3 linked regions of the Homo sapiens genome follow. The protein of the gene in region 1 interacts with the protein of each later gene in a pairwise test. Each region holds a gene or a part of one and is shown in the gene's direction. Other genes may lie near its edges.

Region 1 (5,887 bases):
ACCGATTTGCCAGTGAGGCCAGTGGCTACCAGGACAACATTGCGCGCCTGGAGGAGGAAATCCGGCACCTCAAGGATGAGATGGCCCGCCATCTGCGCGAGTACCAGGACCTGCTCAACGTGAAGATGGCCCTGGATGTGGAGATTGCCACCTACCGGAAGCTGCTGGAGGGAGAGGAGAGCCGGTGAGGGGCCAGGCAGGAGCCCGAGTGGGAGGTGCGGGGTGCTGGGTGGTCCATTTCTGTCCCCAGGAGGCTCGAGATTACTGATTACCTCAACAAGACCTGGAAACAATTTTTTTTTTTTTTGAGATGGAGTTTCGCTCTTGTCGCCCAGTCTGGAGTGCAATGGCACCATCTTGGCTCACTGCAACCTCCGCCTCCTGGGTTCAAGCAATTCTCCTGCCTCAGCTTCCCGAGCAGCTGGGATTACAGGCGCCTACCACCACGCCTGGCTAATTTTTGTATTTTTAGTAGAGACGGGGTTTCACTATGTTGGGCAGCTGGTCTCGAACTCCTGACCTCAGGTGATCTGCCTACCTCAGCCTCCCAAAGTACTGGGATTACAGGCGTGAGCCACCGCACCCGGCGTGGAAACAATTTTATACAAGAGGCCACTGCTCTATTAATTGCAGAGAATTAACCAAGGCCACCTGGGTAAAAAGCAATTTAATTAACAGCATTTATAAAAAGAGAAATATAAGTATTCCCTTATCCACCTTCAGAATTAAGAACCAGCAGCAAAAAAAACCATATTCAGCAACCAATAATAAAATATTACTGCCAGTCAAGGGAGAGATGAAAGCAGAATGGGGAGTGATGAGGAGGGAAACGGAGGGAGCAGATAGAGGCAAATAGAGAGAGGGAGGGAGAGAAGCCTTGCACAGGGATAGGCTAAGAGAAGGTAAAGAGATGCATACAGAAGGCATGAGTTTGCACACACATGCACACATGTCAGCATATGCACATGTTCGGAGGAAAAGACACAGACGTCATGCTCAGAGCAACCCACCTCTAGACACAGAAAACAACATACAACTGGAAAGGGACACCAGGGAACCTTGTGGGATAACAGAAATGTTCTATATCTTTTTTTTTTTTTTTTTTTGAGACAGAGTCTTGCTCTGTCACCCAGGCTGGAGTGCAGTGGTGTGATCTCAGCTCACTGCAACCTCTGCCTCCCAGGCTCAAGCGGTTCTCCTGTCTCAGCCTCCCTAGTAGCTGGGATTACAGGCGTGTGCCAACACACTCAGCTGATTTTTTGTATTTTTAGTAGAGATGAGGTTTCACCATGTTGGTCAGGCTGGACTCTAACTCCTGACCTCAAGTAATTCGCCTGCCTCAGCCTCCCAAAGTGCTGGGATTATAGGCATGAGCCACTGTGCCTGGCCTAGAAATGTTCTATATCTTGATTTGGACTGGTAGTTACACAGACGTGGACATTGATCAAAACTCATTGAATTGTACATTAAAGATCTGTGCATTTCACTGTATGTAAATTTAACCTCAATTTAAAACAGATCAGTTACTCCAAAAACTGGTACCCCTTGATACTCATAAAAATAATATCTGAAATTTTTAAAAAGGAGCAGACATGTTTAGATACAGGTACAAACATAAAGAGAAACTTCAGATTTTGTAAAATCACGTCTACATATGATGGCCTTTGAAGGTAGCTAAAGGCATGTTGCATTTTCCCAGCATTAGGCCTAAATAGTAAGCTCTCAGAACTGGCCTGGCTGGAGGGTGGGCATGAGCAATGGATATCACCCACAGCTGCTACTAGTACCAACTTCAGTGCCAGGAGCAAGAAGGAAATCCTGGTGCTCTGGAGGGCGCGGTGGGGTTGCACATCCTAGTGTCGTGCCAGCAGTTCACAGTTGAAATAATGATCCTTCCAGAAGAGACTATTCCTGGGACAGCTCTAGCTGGCCTTCGACCCCATTCCTTGAGCAGTATGGGTGGTGGGAGTGCTGGGGTCCGTGGGACTGGGACAGCTGAGGATGGTGTTTAGAAAGGACCAGGGTGAGCCTTGATGGGCGGTCTCAGGGAAAGATGGGAGGGTTCTTTTTTTTTTTTTTTTGAGACAGGGTCTTGTTCTGTCCCCCAGGCTGGAGTGCAGTGGTGCAATCTCCGCTCACTGCAAGCTCCACCTCCTGGGTTCGCACCATTCTCCTGCCTCACCCTCCTGAGTATCTGGAACTACAGGTGCCCGCCACCATGCCCGGCTAATTTTTTGTATTTTTAGTAGAGACGGGGTTTCACTGTGTTAGCCAGGATGGTCTCGATCTCCTGACCTGGTGATCCGCCCGCCTCGGCCTTTCAAAGTGCTGGGATTACAGCTGGGCCCGGCCGATGGGAGGGTTCTTAACTCTTAGGAGGTTTTGTCTCTTCCCTTTTAGGATCAATCTCCCCATCCAGACCTACTCTGCCCTCAACTTCCGAGGTGAGTGTCTGCTGGCAGGCGGAGGCTGGAGTTGCAGGGGCCAGGAGTCCAGCATGGGCACTGCCCAAGGCCAGCCAGGAGGGAGGATGGGACCCTGGGGCTAGGGACAGACCTGGAGTCTGGGGAAGAAAAAGGGGACCACTGCGGGTAGGTGGGGGAGTTTAGGTAGAGGTGGATGAGGCAACTTATGACAGAGAGAGCTTTTTATGTGATTATATTGTATTGTATTTACCATGTCCCCTGCACCTTCTTGGAGTATTGGGCCTCAGGAAGCAGCCTCTGTTCTGAATCCCAAACTCTGAAAGCAGGAGTGTCCTTGGGGACCTGGCTTCAGGAGCATCTCATACCACCTGCCCTCTAAGACACCCACAGCCCATTGTCTGTTTGGCACATTGCCAAGCCCCACCTTGGCTGCTTGTCGAACACCTCCAGTTTGCTGGAGCAAGATGTTGGATGCACGTTTGGAAAAAAATGCCAAATCTTAGCAAAGCCAAACAATGAAAAGAACGAGCTCTTAGGGCACTCTGCCATTTTGACATTAGTAATACGCAGATCGGGTGGCTTTCCAACCCCAGAGAGCAGAGAAACACACGATAATGATGCATTAGGAAAGCAAGTCGGAGTCCTTGGCAGCTTCTCCTTTCCTAGATCAAACCTTTTCTATCTTCGATGTACATTTCCATCAGGAAAAAAAACACGCTGCGCTCCAGCGAGTCACAACATTCATCACAGGCTGGTTGCTAGCTAAGGAAATTCGTAAGCACCAAACTCATAATACCAAGGACCTCCATTTGACCTTTCCTACACAACTCAGAGCCTCTCTTTTCAGTTAGTTGTTTATACAGACACCAAGTATGAGTCTTGCATTTAAAACTTCATAGTACAAAAAACTCCACCCACATTGCACAGTGCTTTTCCAAATCAATAGCTTTGTGGCCATGATAAGGTTGGTACCACTTCACTCCGTGTCCTCAGTGAGGAAACTGAGGCACAGAATGGCAAGTGACTGAGCATCAGCACAATGAGTCAGTGCCTTATTCCTGCTCTGTCTCACTTTAAGACATCAAGTTGCTCATCTGAATTTTTTTTTTCTTTTGAAACGGAGTCTCGCTCTGTCGCCCAGGCTGGAGTGCAGTGGTGCAATCTCGGCTCACCGCAACCTCCGCCTCCCAGGTTCAAGCAATTCTCCTGCCTCAGCCTCCTGAGTAGCTGGGATTACAGGCATGTGCCACCACGCCCCCCTAATTTTTGTATTTTTAGTAGAGACGGGGTTTCACCATGTTGGTCAGGGTGGTCTGGAACTCCTGGCCTCATGATCCACCTGCCTCGGTCTCCCAAACTACTGGGATTACAGATGTGAGCCACCGCACCTGGCCCTGAAATCTTAAAGGGAGATAGGTACTGTAAGGTCCTCTAAAGAGTGTCTTGAGACTGGGCTTTGGGGTTCTATCTTGAAGAAGGGGAGTCCCAGGAGACAAATGTGTGCAGGGCTCTCCTGGGGCCTGGGGGTGGAGAGGAACTAGGAGGGATGGGGAATGTCAGTGCTGTGCAGCCTGGGCCTCAGGTGTCCCCTACCCTCCTGCACCATCCTGCACATGGAGCAAATCTGTTGGCTCCTGAGACCATCTAAACTATGGGACAGGCGCTGGGGACTGCAGAACCACCTGCTGGGTGCTGGGCTGAAGGAAAGGTGTTAAAGTCTTGAAGAAGTAACAAGCCTGTCTTGAGGGGGGTTGGGGTCTGCTAGGGCTCTGCCCAATGTGGCCCCAGATGGACTCCCAGCCCCTGGTATAGCCCAGCCTGGACTTGGTCAGGCTGAGTGTGCGATGGACCCTGTTACAGAAACCAGCCCTGAGCAAAGGGGTTCTGAGGTCCATACCAAGAAGACGGTGATGATCAAGACCATCGAGACACGGGATGGGGAGGTAAGTGGTCTGTCTGGGCTCCTTACCCTTGGTGGGGGCTATGGATGTGTCTGGGGGGACTGTCTTCCACCCAGCTGTGCTGGTCTAGGTCCCTGGCTAGTGGGGCAAGAGAGATCCTGCGGCCCTGGGGTGGGGATGGCTCAGGGCTGAGGCTCCATTCTCTGGCTAGCACATGGTTGGACTGGGCTTCTCTTCCTCCCCAGGTCGTCAGTGAGGCCACACAGCAGCAGCATGAAGTGCTCTAAAGACAGAGACCCTCTGCCACCAGAGACCGTCCTCACCCCTGTCCTCACTGCTCCCTGAAGCCAGCCTTCTTCCATCCCAGGACACCACACCCAGCCTCAGTCCTCCCCTCACAGCCTCTGACCCCTCCTCACTGGCCATCCCTCGTGGTCCCCAACAGCGACATAGCCCATCCCTGCCTGGTCACAGGGCATGCCCCGGCCACCTCTGCGGACCCCAGCTGTGAGCCTTGGCTGTTGGCAGTGAGTGAGCCTGGCTCTTGTGCTGGATGGAGCCCAGGCGGGAGCGGTGGCCCTGTCCCTCCCACCTCTGTGACCTCAGGCACTAGCCTTTGGCTCTGGAGACAGCCCCAGAGCAGGGTGTTGGGATACTGCAGGGCCAGGACTGAGCCCCGCAGACCTCCCCAGCCCCTAGCCCAGGAGAGAGAAAGCCAGGCAGGTAGCCAGGGGGACTAGCCCCTGTGGAGACTGGGGGGCTTGAAATTGTCCCCGTGGTCTCTTACTTTCCTTTCCCCAGCCCAGGGTGGACTTAGAAAGCAGGGGCTACAAGAGGGAATCCCCGAAGGTGCTGGAGGTGGGAGCAGGAGATTGAGAAGGAGAGAAAGTGGGTGAGATGCTGGAGAAGAGAGGAGAGGAGAGAGGCAGAGAGCGGTCTCAGGCTGGTGGGAGGGGCGCCCACCTCCCCACGCCCTCCCCTCCCCTGCTGCAGGGGCTCTGGAGAGAAACAATAAAGAGATTCACACACAAGCCAAGCTGGCCCCTGTTGTCTTGACTGCCAGGTCTCCTGTGGGGCCCCTGGGGCCCTGTGATACAACCTGTCACCCTGAGATGGACTATACTGACCTTCTACCCAGCCAGACTTTCCCCAGGGCCTCGCGCCCACTTCTGTTCCCAGAGCCACCTGGCCTTGATGTCTGTATGCAGTGTATGGGGCAGGGAGGGCTGGACAGGGCTTTTGTTGGGGAACCACAAATACCTCTCGTTAGGCCCCAGTTCCAGGACTGCACCCCTTGTGCTCTCTACTACACCTTCAGGTCAGCCAGGCTGGGGGACACCACCTGCTATTCCTTTTGAAGGATGTAGCTGCTCCCCACTGACTGGCTCTGAAGTAGGGCTCCCCCAGTCCCTTCTTCAAAGATGCCAACAGCCCCTTTTTTTTCTCTCTCTCTTTTTTTCTTTTTGAGATGGAGTCTTGCTGTGTCACCCAGGCTGGAGTGCAGCAGTGTGATCACGGCTTACTGCAGCCTGGACTTCCTGAGCTCAAGCGATCCTCCCA
Region 2 (7,029 bases), on another chromosome or scaffold:
GCCAGATGGTGCAGGTGACCGAGGACAGCCTCCAGCCTAGTAGAGAGGCCCTGGAGGAGACCCGCTGCCACCCTCCTGGCTGTGCGACCTCAGAGGAGCTGCTTGGCTTCTCTGAGCCTGTTTTCTCACCTGTGGGATGGGAATAAGCACGGTGCCTGCCTGGCGATGTTGGCTCAGGATTAAATGAAATAATGCAGGGGAAAGGTTGTGAATGATAAGCGGCCGCAGGTAATAGCATCTGTGACGATTACAGTTATTAAGCAAATGCGGGCAAGCTAGCTGTGGTGTACCCAGGGTTAAACTTGATATCATGGTGGACAGGCTGTGCACTGCACAATTCCATAGGCACTGTTGCTGGGTTTTAGCACGTGGTCGTGGAGGAGACGTGGACAACCTCCCTGCACTTGAGTCGCTGGCAGTCACATCACAGAGATAAGATGGAGTTAAGCTTCAGTACATGTATGGTTACATGAGCGTCGGACTGATGGGGCCAGGCAGGAGCAATGGAGCATAGAGCCGGACAGATGAGGTCTCCACCCTGGCCACTCACATACTTTGTGACAGGCCTCAAGTGAGAGTTGTCACAGTCAGAGCACAGATGCTGGGAGGTGAGGGAGGACTTCACAGAGGAGGCATCTGACCTGTCACGGGGTGGGATGGAGTGGCCAAGACCCAGCTCTGCAGTCAGGCTCAATTCTGCCTCTGCTTGAAAAGAAACATAGCATCCCTGAGCCCCAGCGCTTCTGAATTTGTTGAATGGGATTAATCTTGCCCCTCCACCCAGACCTGGGTCCCAGTAAACACCCAGCAGCCTGGCCTTGCCTAGACGGGTCTTGCAACACTGGGGCCGCCCTGATGGAGCGCTCCTGCATGGGAGGCAGGACCCCAGGCTTTGAGGGGAGAGCTGGCAAAAGGGAAGCATGCTCTACTGGGAGGCACCTGGGGTACCCTGAGCCTCTTAGTGGTTAAGAACACAGTGTTTTATTAGCTGGGCATGGGGGTGGGTGCCTGTAGTCCCAGCTACTCAGGAGGCTGAAGCAGGAGAATCCCTTGAACCTGGGAGGCAGAGGTTGCAGTGAGCTGAGATTGTGCTACTGCACTCCAGCCTGGGTAAAAGAGTGAGACTCTGTCTCAAAAAGAAAAAAAAAAAAGCAAGAACACAGTGTTTGATGCTAGCTGGGCATGAGTTCAGGCCGCAGCTCTGGGTCTCTTAAGCTGTTTGATCTTGGGCAAGTCACTTAATGTCTCCGAGCCTCAGTTTCTTCATCTATGAGGTGGGGTGACAACAGCAACCCCCAGTTGGTGAGGCTGCTGGGTAGATCAAATGAGGGGATGCACATGATGGGTCCAGCCCATGACCTGGTTCAGAGCGAGTGCCCGGCAAATCATAGCAGCCAATACTAGGAAGCACACACTGCTATTAAGAGTCATGACGGGCTGGGCGCGGTAGCTCACGCCTGTAATCCCAGCACTCTGAGAGGGTAAGGCGGACGGATCACTTGAGGTCAGGAGTTCAAGACCAGCCTGGCCAACATGGTGAAATCCCATCTCTACAAAAATAAATATTAAAAATTAGCTGGGTGTGGTGGCGGAAACCTGTAATCCCAGCCAGATACTGGGGAGGCTGAGGCAGGAGAATCACTTGAACCTGGGAGGCAGAGATTGCAGTGAGCCGAGATCACACCACTGCACTCCAGCCTGGGAGACAGAGCGAGACTCCGTCTCAAAAAAAAAAAAAAAAGATTCATGACTGAGCCAAGCCCAGAGCTGACCAGGGAGCTGACTCAAGCAGACACGCACATGCACCCATCGATCAGTGTTGGTAGGAACGCCTGATCGATATGGGAGGGGACCCATGTGGGTAACAGCTTAGAGAGAGCCGCCCCGCCATTTCTCAGGCACATACTGTGAGCCCAGCAAGGCCATGGATGTTACATCTCATTCTGACAGCGGGCCTGCCATGCAGGTGGAAGTGTCCTGTTTCACAGAGGGCTCACATTCACCTTGAGCTCACAGCTCACAAATGGCTGATGCTGGAAGTCCAGGGGGGCCTGGGGAAGCAAATGAGGCCTCCCCACTCGTACCTGGATCTGGCAGCAACTGTGCCTGGGGACTGCTCCAGGCCAAATGGTAGAGTCATTGGTGTTTGTGCTCACTGCCTCTACCCCCAGCAACCCCCTCTACCTCTCTTCTCTCTAGCTTTGCCCCTCCATCCCTTGCCCAGTTCTCTTGGAAGAAGGAATGAGACTGGATAAATTCGATTCAGGACAGAGCTGAGCTTACCTGGAGGAACAGCTGCTAATGGTAGCATTTCAGGCACTGTCGGGCGGATCATGTTGGGAAAGGGTATTTTGGGGGAGAGACTCAGCTCCGTCCACACCCTTTAAGCAATACCCTAAGGGTGTGGTTGGGGGAGGCCCTGGAAGTAGGGGACCTGGGGGAGAAGCTGCTTTAGAGAGCTTCCAAAGCTCCTCGTCTGGGGAAGAGAACCCTGGCTTCCCAGCGTGCAGCTGCTCTCTGCTCCCGGCAGGTCTGTGCCGGTGTTACCGGCACCACCTTGCATCCTCCCAGCCTGCCTGCCCCGGCCTGTCTTGGGAGCGAATGGGGAAACGGCCTCTGGTCTTTGTTCTCCCGGCTTCTGATGGGTTGCTGTGCTGCAGCCTCTGGAGCCCGGGAGGCCACCTGGTGCCCCTTTCTGCCTCCGGGTGGGACAAAGCTCTCTTCAGGTCCCAGCCCTGCCCTTCCCTACCCCAACCTATTTTTTTTAAGTGTTCTTTCTTTATTCTTTAGAGACAGGCTGTCACTGTATCACCCAGATTGGAGTGCAGTGGTGCGATCATAGCTCACTGTAGCCTTGAACTGCTGGGCTCAAGCAATCCTCATGCCTCAGCCTCCCAAGAAGCTGGGACTACAGGTGTGCACACCACCGTGCCCCGCTAATTTTTAATATTTGTAGAGATGGGGTCTCACTATATTGCCCACTCTGGTCCTGAACTCCTGGGCTCAAGTGAGCCTCTTGCCTTAGCCTCCCAAAGCACTGAGATTACAGCCATGAGCCACTGCACGCAGGCCCTTTCCCTTTAAATGGATCCCCACTTCTCCCTGCCTGCAGAGCCAGCAGCCCAGCAGGCCTCCAGTCCCTCTTCACTGTTCCTTCTTCCACTCCAGCGCTCCAGTCCCTTCTCCCCATGGCAGCCAGGGAGCTCCTTACGACATAAATCTGACCATACCTCCAGCTGCTTAACCCCTGCCCCAGACCTCTCTTTGCTCTTAGGCCCTGGGAGCTGGTGCCCTGCACATCAACATGTGCCTGTCACCGTCTTGTTTCCACGCTGTGCCCGGCCACAAGGCCTTTCCCTCTGCCATTCCTGTTGCCCAGAATGCCCCTCCCACCCCTTTTCACTGCTTCTCTTCCACTTCCAGGTTTACCTTCTGTTCCTCAGGGAAGCCTTCCCCAACCTCTCTGCTGGGGTAGATCCACCTATTCTATGGACTCCCCTTCTCCTTGGTAGCTCTTATCTCAGCAGCTATGTGACTCCGGGGTAGCCACATGTGGCTGTGTGGCTGCCTTCCCCCAGACACTGGTGCTACACGCGTGCTGAATGAATGAATGAATGAGAGTAAGCCATGGGGGACTGCTAAGATTCTCCCCTTCCCTCAGCATTTCAAGAGAGCATACATTGCCCTGCGCTTCACACCCCAGGACCAGCAGAGCCCGGAGGTGGGGATGAATGGGGCAGGGGTTCCAGCTAGTGGAAAGGAGTGCGAGGCCTGAGCAGGCTGCCCCCTGCCCTGTCCCCATCCAGTCACCTCCTGCGTGCAGGACGGTGAGCAGAGAGTTGGCTGAGTACACAGCTGGCAGCAATGCGGAGTGATAGTGAGATAAAGGAGGGCCCTGACCCAGCCACACAGGCTTCTTCAGGAGAGGTCCTCCACGCCGAACCCGGGGATCAGTTGGAGATGAGAGGATAAAGAGAGTGCAGTTGACAGAAGGTGACGGGGATGTGTGTATCCACGACCCGAAAAGGCATGACAGTGAGCAAGCAAAGCAAGTTGATGAAGGATGCAAAGATGATGCTTGCATATATACATTTTTAGAAACATACACAGAGCAATTCCACTTACTCTTCCTGAATGCAGATGTGTCTATGTATTGGAAAGCTTAGGGAACCAGGTGCAGTGGTTCGCACTTGTCCTAGCGCTTTGGGAGGCCAAGGCGGGAGGATGACTTGAGGCCAGGAGTTGAAGACGAGCCTGGGCAACATAGTGAGACCCTATTTCTACCAAAAAAAAAAAAAAATTAGCTGGGCATGGTGGTGCATGCCTCTAGTCTTAGCTACTCAGGAGGCTGAGAGGGGAGGATCCCTGAGTCCAGGAATTCAAGGCTGCAGTGAGCTGTGATTGTGCCACTGCACTCCAGCCTGGGCAACAGAGCAAGACCCTGTCTCTAAATAAATAAAATAAAACAGGCTTAGGAAGAACCAGTAAATCTAAAATTCTGCTACTCCTAAGAAGGGGCCTGAAAGGATAATGAACAATAACATTTCTCTTCCTTTTTAGAAAAATCTGCAGCAAAGATGGTACTGTGAAAACATCAACCAAACCGTGGTGGTGGGGACATGCGTGGCTGATTCTTTTCAGTACTTTTCTGCATGTCTGAGTAGATCACGAGTTTTCCAGTTTAGGTGAAGGGTGGAGTAGAGAAGGCGAGCTGGCGTGGGGCACAGCTGGCGGGGGGCACAGCGTGGGAAGAGCCTGCAGGCAAGCCCTGAGTCCTGGGTCTCAGAGTCCAGTCCATAGCAAAATAAAAGGTCTGGGAGAGGAAGAAGAGGGACCTCAGGAAGCAAAGGGGGCCCAGTCCTGGAAGGCAAGCAGGCAGGTTCTGGATGGGGAGACAAAAATGGAGAGTCTCTGCAAGGAAGTGAGAGGGGAGGGGACCAGAACTGGGAAAGGTATGAACACAGAAAGGCCTTGAGGTTGGGTGCTAGCTTAAAACCATCACCCTAAATTATGATTATTACATTGTCTGAGATAAATTCTACCCTCAGCTCTCGTTCCAAGTGAGGCTCAGAGAGTTTGAGTGACTCGCTCCAGGACTCTCGGCAGATCTTTTTTTTTTTTTTTTTTTTTTTTTTTTTTAAGGTAGAGTTTCACTTTTGTTGCCCAGGCTGGAGTGAAGTGACACAATCTCAGCTCACTGCAACCTCTCTGCCTCCTGGGTTCAAGTGATTCTCCTGCCTCAGCCTCCCAAGTAGCTGGGATTACAGGCGCCCACCACCACGCCTGGCTATATTTTGTATTTTTAGTAGAGACGGGGTTTCACCATGTTGGCCAGGCTGGTCGCAAACACCTGACCTCAGGTGATCCACCTGCCTCGGCTTCCTAAAGTGCTGGGATTACAGGCATGAGCCACTGCTCCCAGCCAAATAGAGTTTCTTATCTGAGATTGAAGCAGGGTTGAAGCCCTGTCTCTTCTTTGTGGTACAAACTTGGAATCCTTTCCCACCCTTCGATGGGAAACAAACCATCGCCATGGCGAAGGCAGAGAATTTGAAACCCTAAAAGGTATCAGCCTGAAATCCTAGCCCAGGCAGTGGGGGCAGCAAAAAATTCTGCAAGTTCTATTTCTCCCACAGCCCTGCGGCCTTGCAGGCTCAGCCAGCAGCTCTGGTGTGTTTTATCTTACAAAGCATGACAAAAACCCTCTGCCTAGGAAAGGATGGGCGGGGCGGCCAGGACACCCTGCCAGCCCTCTCAAAGTGTCTGGGTAAGAACTGCTGAGATGGCCGGGCACAGTGGCCCATGCCTGTAATCCCAACACTCTGGGAGGCCTAAGGTCAGGTGTTGGAGACCAGCCTGGCCAACATGGTGAAACCCTGTCCCTACTAAAAATACAAAATATATTTTGTGTTTGAGCCCAAGAGTTGAAGGCTGCAGTGAGTGAAGTGCAGCAATGCACTTCAGCCTGAATAACAGAGCAAGACTCTGTCTCAAAAAATGAAAAAGGAGGCTGGTGCTCTTTCTCCAGTGGTCCTGAACCCAGAGTGACATCCTGATGCCTTGGGGCACCAAAGTTGGCTTGAGCCCTGTTTATCCCCCGAGTCTAGGAATTCAAAGCTGCAGTGAGCTATGAATCCTCCCACCTCAGCCTCCTGAGCAGCCAGGACTAGAGGCATGCACAACCATGCCCAGCTAATTTTATTTATTTATTTATTTTTGGTAGAAATAGGGTCTTGCTGTGTTGCCCTGTCTTCAAGACCTGCCTTGGTGTTACCTGAAGCAGCTTGAACTTCTGTATGTTTGTAAAAGGAGCCCAAAAGCACTCACCTGACACAGAACCCTAGGCCCCATCAGAGGCCTGGAGGCAGGGCGGCCTTCCCTGGGCAGAAACAGATTAGGCCTTAAAAACAGACCTGGAATTACTACACCAGCAACCTTCTCATCTTAGGATATATTTCCACAGGATTAATAGCTGGGTGTGAGGACATTTACTGTCTAATTAGCACAGGAGTTTCTAGTAGTGAGAGAATCAGTCAATTGACCAATCAATCTGGTATTCATTGGGCACATTCTGTGTACTGCTTTCTCACAGGGCTTCCTTCCTATAGAGATCTAGGATTCTTCGGCATCTTGCTTCTTTTAAACCTTGCTGTGGTTCAGTTCCTTGTTCTCATCCCTGGCTGTACATTAGAATCACCTGAGGAGTTTTGAACAGCATGTCAGAGCCCTTTCCAAGACCAGTTAAGTCAAAATCTCCATGGACATGGGTCCAGACATCATTCTTTTGATGTGCAGCTGTTGGGAACCACATAGTTACATGGATTGCCTCGCTCCCTCTTGTCTTTGAGATATATGGACAGTGCTTTCTCTCTTCAGTATCAGTTGCCTGGTATGTCACTCTCCATTCTTTATTCTCAACCTTCCTGTATCATTTAGTTTCAAGTGTGTGTGTCTTATAAAATGGCATATAGCTTGGGGAAGGTGTGTGTTTTGTAATCTCACCGGAGAGTCTTTTATCTTTTAATAGGC
Region 3 (7,029 bases), on another chromosome or scaffold:
CTATGAGATCAACTTTTTTATCTTCTGCATGTGAATGTGACCGTGCAGTATTTGTCTTTGTGTGACTGGCTTATCTCACTTACATATCATTCTCCAGGTTCATCCAGGTTATTTCAAACGGCAATATTCTGTTCTGTTTTATGGCTGAATAGCATTCCCTTGTGTATTTATACCACATTTCCTTTATACACTCATCCGTAGATGGACACTTAGATTGCTTTCATTTCATAGCTATTGTGAATAGGGCTGCAACAAACATGGAAGTGCTGACATCTCTTTGACACACTGATGACACTCTCTTTGGATACATGCTCAGTAGTGGGATTCATGGATAGTGTGATAGTTCCATTGTTAAAATATTGGGGAATGTCCATACTGTTTTCCATGGTGGCTGTAACAATTTACATCCCACCAACCGTGCATAAAGCTTCCAATTTCTCCACATCCTTGCCAACACTTGTTATATCTTGTCTTTTTAATGTTAGCCATTCTAACATGCGTGACTCGGTATCTCTGTGGTTCCGATATGCATTACCCTGATGATTAGAGAAGGTGAGTGTTTTTTCACATGCCTGTTAGCCATTTGTATGTCTCCTTTTGAGAAATGTCTATTCAGGTCTTTTGCTCATTTTTAATAGGATTATTTGTTTTCTTGCTATTGTGTTGTTGGAGTTACATTTTGGAAACTGACCCCTTACTAGATACATAGATTGTCAATGTTTTCTCCTATCGCATAGATTGTCTCTCCACTCTTTGATTGTTTCCTCTGTGGTGCAGAAGCTTTTTAGTTCAATGTAATCCCATTTGTGTATTTTTCCTTTTCTTGCCTTTGCTTTTGAGGTCCTGTTTTTAAAATATCGTTGCCCAGAACAATGTCATGGAGCTTTCCCCCTATGTCTCCTTCTAGTAGTTTCACAGCTTTGGGTCTTCATTTTAAAGCTTTAAATCATTTTGAGTTGATTTATATACACGCTGAGAGATAAGGGTGGAAATTCATTTTTCTCAGATGAATATCCAGTTATTTTCAACATCATTTATTGAAGAGACTGTACTTTCTCAACATTGTGTGTTCTCGGGCCTTTTGTCAAAAATTAGTTGACTGTAAATGCACAGATTTAATTCCGGGCTCTGTATTCTGCTCCATTGGTTGATGTGTCCGTTTTTATACTGGTACTGTGCTGTTATGCTTACTATAGCTTTGTCATATGTTTTGACATCATAGTGTGATGCCTCCAGCTTTGTTCCTTGTATTCCAGACTGCTTCAGCTGTCTGGAATCTTTCATGGTTCCATACAAATTTTAGGAGTATTTCTTCTATTTCCAAGAAGAATGTCATTGGTATTTTCATAGCAGTTGCATTGAATCTATAGATTGCTTTAGGTTACGGACATTTTAACAATATTTTATTCTTCCTGTTCATGAACACATGATATATTTCCATTCATTCCTGCCTCCTTCAATTTGCTTCGTCAATGGTTTATAGTTTTCAGTGTTGCAATCCTTCACCTCCTTGGTTAAATTTATTCCTATTTTAATTTTTTTGAAGGTGTTGTAAATGGGATTGTTTCTTGATATCTTTTCCAGATAGTTCCCTATTGGTGTATAGAGATACTACTGATTCTTGTATGTTGGTTGTGTCTCATGCCACTTTCCTGAATTTGTTTATTAGACCTAGTAGCTGTTTGGTGGTGTCTTCAGGGTTATTTATAAGTAACAGCTTCCCGTCTGCAAACAGGGCCAATCTAAATTCTTCCTTTTGAATTTAGATGCCTTTTGTTTCTTCTTGCCTAATTTCTCTGGTTAGCACTTCCAGAACTATGTGCGATAGAAAGGGCAAAAGTGGGCATTTCTGTCCTGTTCCAGGTCTTAGAGGAAAAGCCTGCAACACTTCCCCATTCAGTATGATGTTATCTGTGGGTTTATCATATATGACCTTTATTGTGTTGAGGTGCACTCCTCTTATACCTAATTTGTGGAGTTTTTAGTCACGAAGAGGTGTGGAATTCAATCAAATGCTTTTCCTGCTGAAATTGGAATGAACCTATGGCTTTTTTCCTTCATTCTTTTCACGTGATATAGCACATTTATTGATTTGTGTATGTTGAAACTTCCCTGCATCCCAGGGATGAAGTCCTCTAGAACATGGTGAATGATTTTTTTAATGTGCTGTGGAAATTGCTTTACTAATACTTTGTTAAAGATTTTGCAACTGTGTTGATCAGGAATTTTGGCATGTAGTTTTTTTTGGTTTTCTCTTCTTTCTGTTTCCTCATCTGGGTTTTCTACCAGGGTAATGCGTTGTGACAGAATGAGTTCGGAAGTGTTCGTCTCTTGTCCGTTTTTTTTTTTTTTTTTTTTTTTTTTTTGGAATAGGTTTAAAAGTATAGCTATTAATTATTCTTCTTTATATATAAATTTGGTAGTATTAGGAAGGGAAGTCATTCTGTCTTGGACTCTTCACTGATGGGGGATTTTTTATTACTGAATCACTTTCCTTACTCATTAATGGTCTGTTCAGATTTTCCATTTCTTCACCATTACATCTCGGTAGGTTGTATGTGTCCAGGAATGTAGCCATTTCTTCTAGCTTGTCCTATTTGTAGGCAGATGATTGTTCATAATCTTCCTTATGATACGTTTTGTTTTGGTGATGTCATTTGTGCTGTGTCCTTTTTCATCTTTGATTTTAGTTATTTGAATCTTCTCTCTTTTTTCCTTAGTCTAGCTAAAGTTTTGTTGATTTGCTTTACCTCTTCAAGAAACCAAGTCATTGTTTCATTGATATTTGTATTGTTCTTCTCATTTCTATTCATTTATTTCTGCTCTGACCTTTATGATTTCTGTCCTAATTTTGCATTGCATTTTTTTCTTGTTTTTCTAGTTCCCCAAGGTGCAGTGTGAGGTTGTTTATTTAAGATGTATCTTTTCTTTTGAGGTAGGTTTTATTGATGTAAACTTCACTTTTAGAATTGCTTTTGCTGTATTTCATGGGTTTTCGTATGTTGTGCCTTCATTTTGCTTCAACTCAAGAAATGTTTACACTTTGCTTCTAATTTCTTCATTGACCCATTGGTTATTTAGGAGCATGTTGTTTAATTTCCATCCACTTCTAAAGTTTCCAAAGTTCCTACTTTTATTGATTTCTAATACTTTACCGTTGTGGTTAGAGAACTGATTTGATGTTATTTCAAATTCCCTTAATTTGCTAGTACCTGTTTTATGACCTGCCCCATAATCTATCCTCGAGAATGTTCCACATGCAGTTGGAAAGAATATGTGTTTTGGAGTATTTGGATGGAATGTTCTGTAAATGACTGTCAGGTCCATTTGGTCCGGAGTGCAGATAAATCCCACTTTTTGTGGGGTCAATGTTCTGTCGGGACAATCTGTTCATTGCTGCAAGTTGGGTGTTGAAGTCCCCTACTATTACTGCATTGCACTCTATCTCACCATTTATACCTTAATGTCTGCTTCATATATTTAGGTGCTGCTATGTTGGGTGCATATTTTTGGAAATCATTATATCCTCTTGATGAATTGACCCCTTCATCATTCTATAATGATCTTGGTCTCTTTTTACAGTTTGTGATTTAAACTCTATTTTATTTGAAATCAGTTTAGCAGCTCCTGCTCTCTTTTGGTTTCCCTTTACATGGAAGAATATCTTTTTTCATGTCTTCACTTTCAGTTTACGAATGCCCTTTAAGGAGAAGTGGGTCTCTCATAGGTTTGATTGTTTTTGTTGTTGCTTTTTAAATGTATTCAGCTACTCTGTGCATTTTAATTGGGGGATGTCATCCATTCCTATCAAGGTAATTATTGATAGGTAAGGATTTATTGTTGTCATTTAGATAATTTTTTTCTATCTATTTTGTAGGTAATTTCTTCCTTTCTTTCTCTTTTACTGTTTTCATTGATGGATAAGAGATTTTTCTCTATTAGTGTGTTTTGTGGTTTTGTTTGTATTTGTTTTAGTGTGTCTATTACAGGATGTTTTTCTTTGTGGATAGCATGAGGCTTACGGAAACATAATCACGGCAGATTATTTTACTGATAACATAACTTTGATCACAAAATACAAACACTTTACTATTTAACTCCACCCTGGGATTTTGAGTTTTCTATTTCACACTTTACAATTTTTTATATTTTGTATCCCTTAACAAATTATTGTACTTATTTTATTTTTACTAGTTCAGTTCTTTAACCTTTACATGAAAGATATAAGTGATCTGGAAACCACCATTACCTTATTAGAGTATTCTGAATTTGTGTCGTTACCTTTACTGGTGAGTTTTATACCTTCAGATGTTTTTGCATTACTCATTAGCGTCCCTTACGTCAGTTGGAAGAACTCTCCCTAGCATTTCTTGTAAGACAGTTGCGGTGGTGAGGAAATTTCTCAGCTGTGATTTCTCTGTAAAAGTCTTTATCTCCCCTTCACTGCTGGGTACATTATTCTTGCTTAGAGATTTTTTTCCTTGTGTTCCTAAAGTATACTATACTACTCTCTCCTGGCCTATTATGCTTCTGCTGAGAAGTCTTCTGGTAGGCATATTGGAACTGCCTTATATGTGATTTGCTTCTTTCCTCTTACTGCTCTCAGGATTCTTTCTTTATTTTTCATCTTTGACAGTTTGATTTTAATATGTCATGGGGTAATCTTATTTGGATTGTATCTGAATGCAGAACTTTGGTCTTCCAGTACCTAGACGTTTGTAACTTTCTCTGGGTTTGGATGGCTCTCCATTATTATTTTTTAAATGATCTTTTTACCTCTTTTTCACTCCTCCCTCTTGAATGTGAATGACTCATACTATTGCTCTTCTGATATTGTCCCAGAAATCTAGTTTTTTTTCATTCCGTGTCCTTCCTTTTAATTTTGTCTCCTCTGACTGTATATTTTCAATGAACCTGTCTCCAAGTTTACAGATTCTTTCTTTTGCTCAATCAATTCTTCTTTGGATGTTCTCTATCGTGTACTTCCTTCACTGTATTTTTCAACTTCTGGATTTGCTTGGTTTTTAACAATTCTTTCAATCTTTCCTGCAACTTACTTTGATAAATCCTGAATCATTTCTCTGTAATTGTTTTCAAGGTTCACAGAGCATGTGGAAAATAGATATTTTGAATTATTTGTTAAACAACTCATATATTCCTGTCTCTCTAGGGTCAATTGCTGGCACCTTGTTTTGTCAGTTTGGTGATGTCATGTTTTCCTTATTGTGTTTGATCTTTGTGGTAATGTGTTTATATCTGCGTATTGAAGAAGTAGGTATCCATTTCGGTCTTTGCAGTCTAGCTTTTAGGGGACATCCTTTAGCAGTAAGCCTGTCCAGAAACTCTATATAGGTCTCTTTTGGTCCTTATGCTTGTGAACACTACAGCTATTGAAGCACTAGGGGGATGCCTATTCACAGGGACACAGCGGCAGGTGCTAGGATGGCTGGGATTCCCCTAGCTATTGAGGCTGGTCCCTTGTGAGACTGGAATCCAAGCCTCCATTCACTGAGAACTCCCTGTTGCTGTAGATTATTCTGAGCATAAGGCCACTGGAATCACTAGGGAGAGATGTGGGCCAGATATTGAGTTTGTTTTGCTGTGGCTGTGGCTTCCTGTCTGGTGCCAGGGTGGGTCTAGAGACTCTGTCCACAAGTACCATCTGAGAGTCAGGGGCCATGGGCATCTGTCAAGTGGTGGCCTGATATTGGGTTCCTAGGCAATGTCCTATGCTTGCTACTGTCTCTCTCCTCTGGATGGATGGTATCTCTATTTATGCTTTGCTGTTGAAGGTCGGGGAAGGGGTGATGTGGGTAATGTAAAACTGTCCTTACTACCCTCTTCAGTGCATGTTTTCTTATTTTCATGCTATAACCGGGTACCATGGTCTCTCACCTGGTTTCTTTATGTCAAGTGACGATATTTTCATACAAGGATAGTTTTTCACATTGATGTTTCTGCAGGAGGACAATCACTGGAGAGTCCCATTTCTCCATCTTGCTCCCCTCCTCCTCTATCTGCTTAATTTTTACATACTATAAATATGTCCATCTTGTCCATGTGGCTTCTGGGTTCAGGAAGTATCCTTAGGCTAATTCTAAGACATAATTTACACAAGTATTCACTTAGCTTTTCTTCTGAAAGTCATTCATTTATTTATATCTAAACATACAGCCAGCCTGGGTTTGCTTTTCATGTGCAGGACTGAGAGAAGGATCCACATCTTGTTTCACTACTGGCTACTCAGTTGTCCCTCAACATTAATTGTATAATCCACATTGCCCCTTTTTATTGAAATGCCACTTGTGTCATACAACACATTATCGTAAACATTTGAATCTATTTGTACCGGCTGTTGTGTTGGTCGTCTTTGCAAGGCATAAGAAACAGAGCTGGGAGCCATGAGACATGGGCAAAGCTTTAGTCTGCATATGTCTGTGAGTTGGCGTGGAGTCAAGGAACAGAGAGGTCCGAGGGTGCTGTGGATCATCCACTGGGATACTGACGGAAGTGGTGATAGATATGTGGATGGGAGGCTAATGCCTCATTCCTTCATGACAGTAAGTGAGGGGATAATAAACATCAGATTGGTATTGACAGCTGGAAAGACACCAGTTTAGAAATGAGAATAGCAGCAAACTAGGCTATTTTTAAAACCATGAAAAATTCTTTACAACTCAGTGGCTCAAGTTTCCATCAGAAGTCTCTGCTCAGCAAATGCCAACCCTAGGATTTTATCCTATAGTTAAGTCAGGCAAGTAGTCCAAATGCTATGACACAAGTGAAATGTCTAATTATGTGAAATTGGGTTAGTAAATTACGGCACATCCATTAATTGGGATTCCCTATGACTCTTTCCGTCCTCTCTTGTTATTTAAAAACTTTTGTGTTCATTTAATGTGATACTTTAACACTGAATACCATGCTAATTTGCTTTTAAAACAGGCATTTACACATGTATATATATTTGTGCACAGACAAAAACATCAGGATGAGTGTTACTGCCAAAAATGTAGTCCCTGGTGATCT

The links.
Region 2: the proteins of DES (region 1) and PPL interact in binary tests that used the Homo sapiens proteins (3 or more experiments, as listed by UniProt).
Region 3: the proteins of DES (region 1) and CT55 interact in binary tests that used the Homo sapiens proteins (3 or more experiments, as listed by UniProt).

What each region holds. Positions count from the first base shown.
Region 1 is NC_000002.12:219,421,377-219,427,263, forward strand, and holds the end of DES (desmin), read left to right. Parts: coding exon 1-184; intron 185-2,400; coding exon 2,401-2,444; intron 2,445-4,286; coding exon 4,287-4,369; intron 4,370-4,572; coding exon 4,573-4,614; 3' UTR 4,615-5,176; coding exon of another isoform or gene 5,177-5,203; 3' UTR 5,204-5,358; downstream 5,359-5,887. UniProt on the Homo sapiens protein: Muscle-specific type III intermediate filament essential for proper muscular structure and function.
Region 2 is NC_000016.10:4,927,124-4,934,152, reverse strand, and holds part of PPL (periplakin), read left to right. Parts: intron 1-7,029. UniProt on the Homo sapiens protein: Component of the cornified envelope of keratinocytes. May link the cornified envelope to desmosomes and intermediate filaments. May act as a localization signal in PKB/AKT-mediated signaling.
Region 3 is NC_000023.11:135,161,374-135,168,402, reverse strand, and holds part of CT55 (cancer/testis antigen 55), read left to right. Parts: intron 1-7,029. UniProt on the Homo sapiens protein: Plays a role in spermatogenesis, possibly acting in the regulation of the autophagy pathway.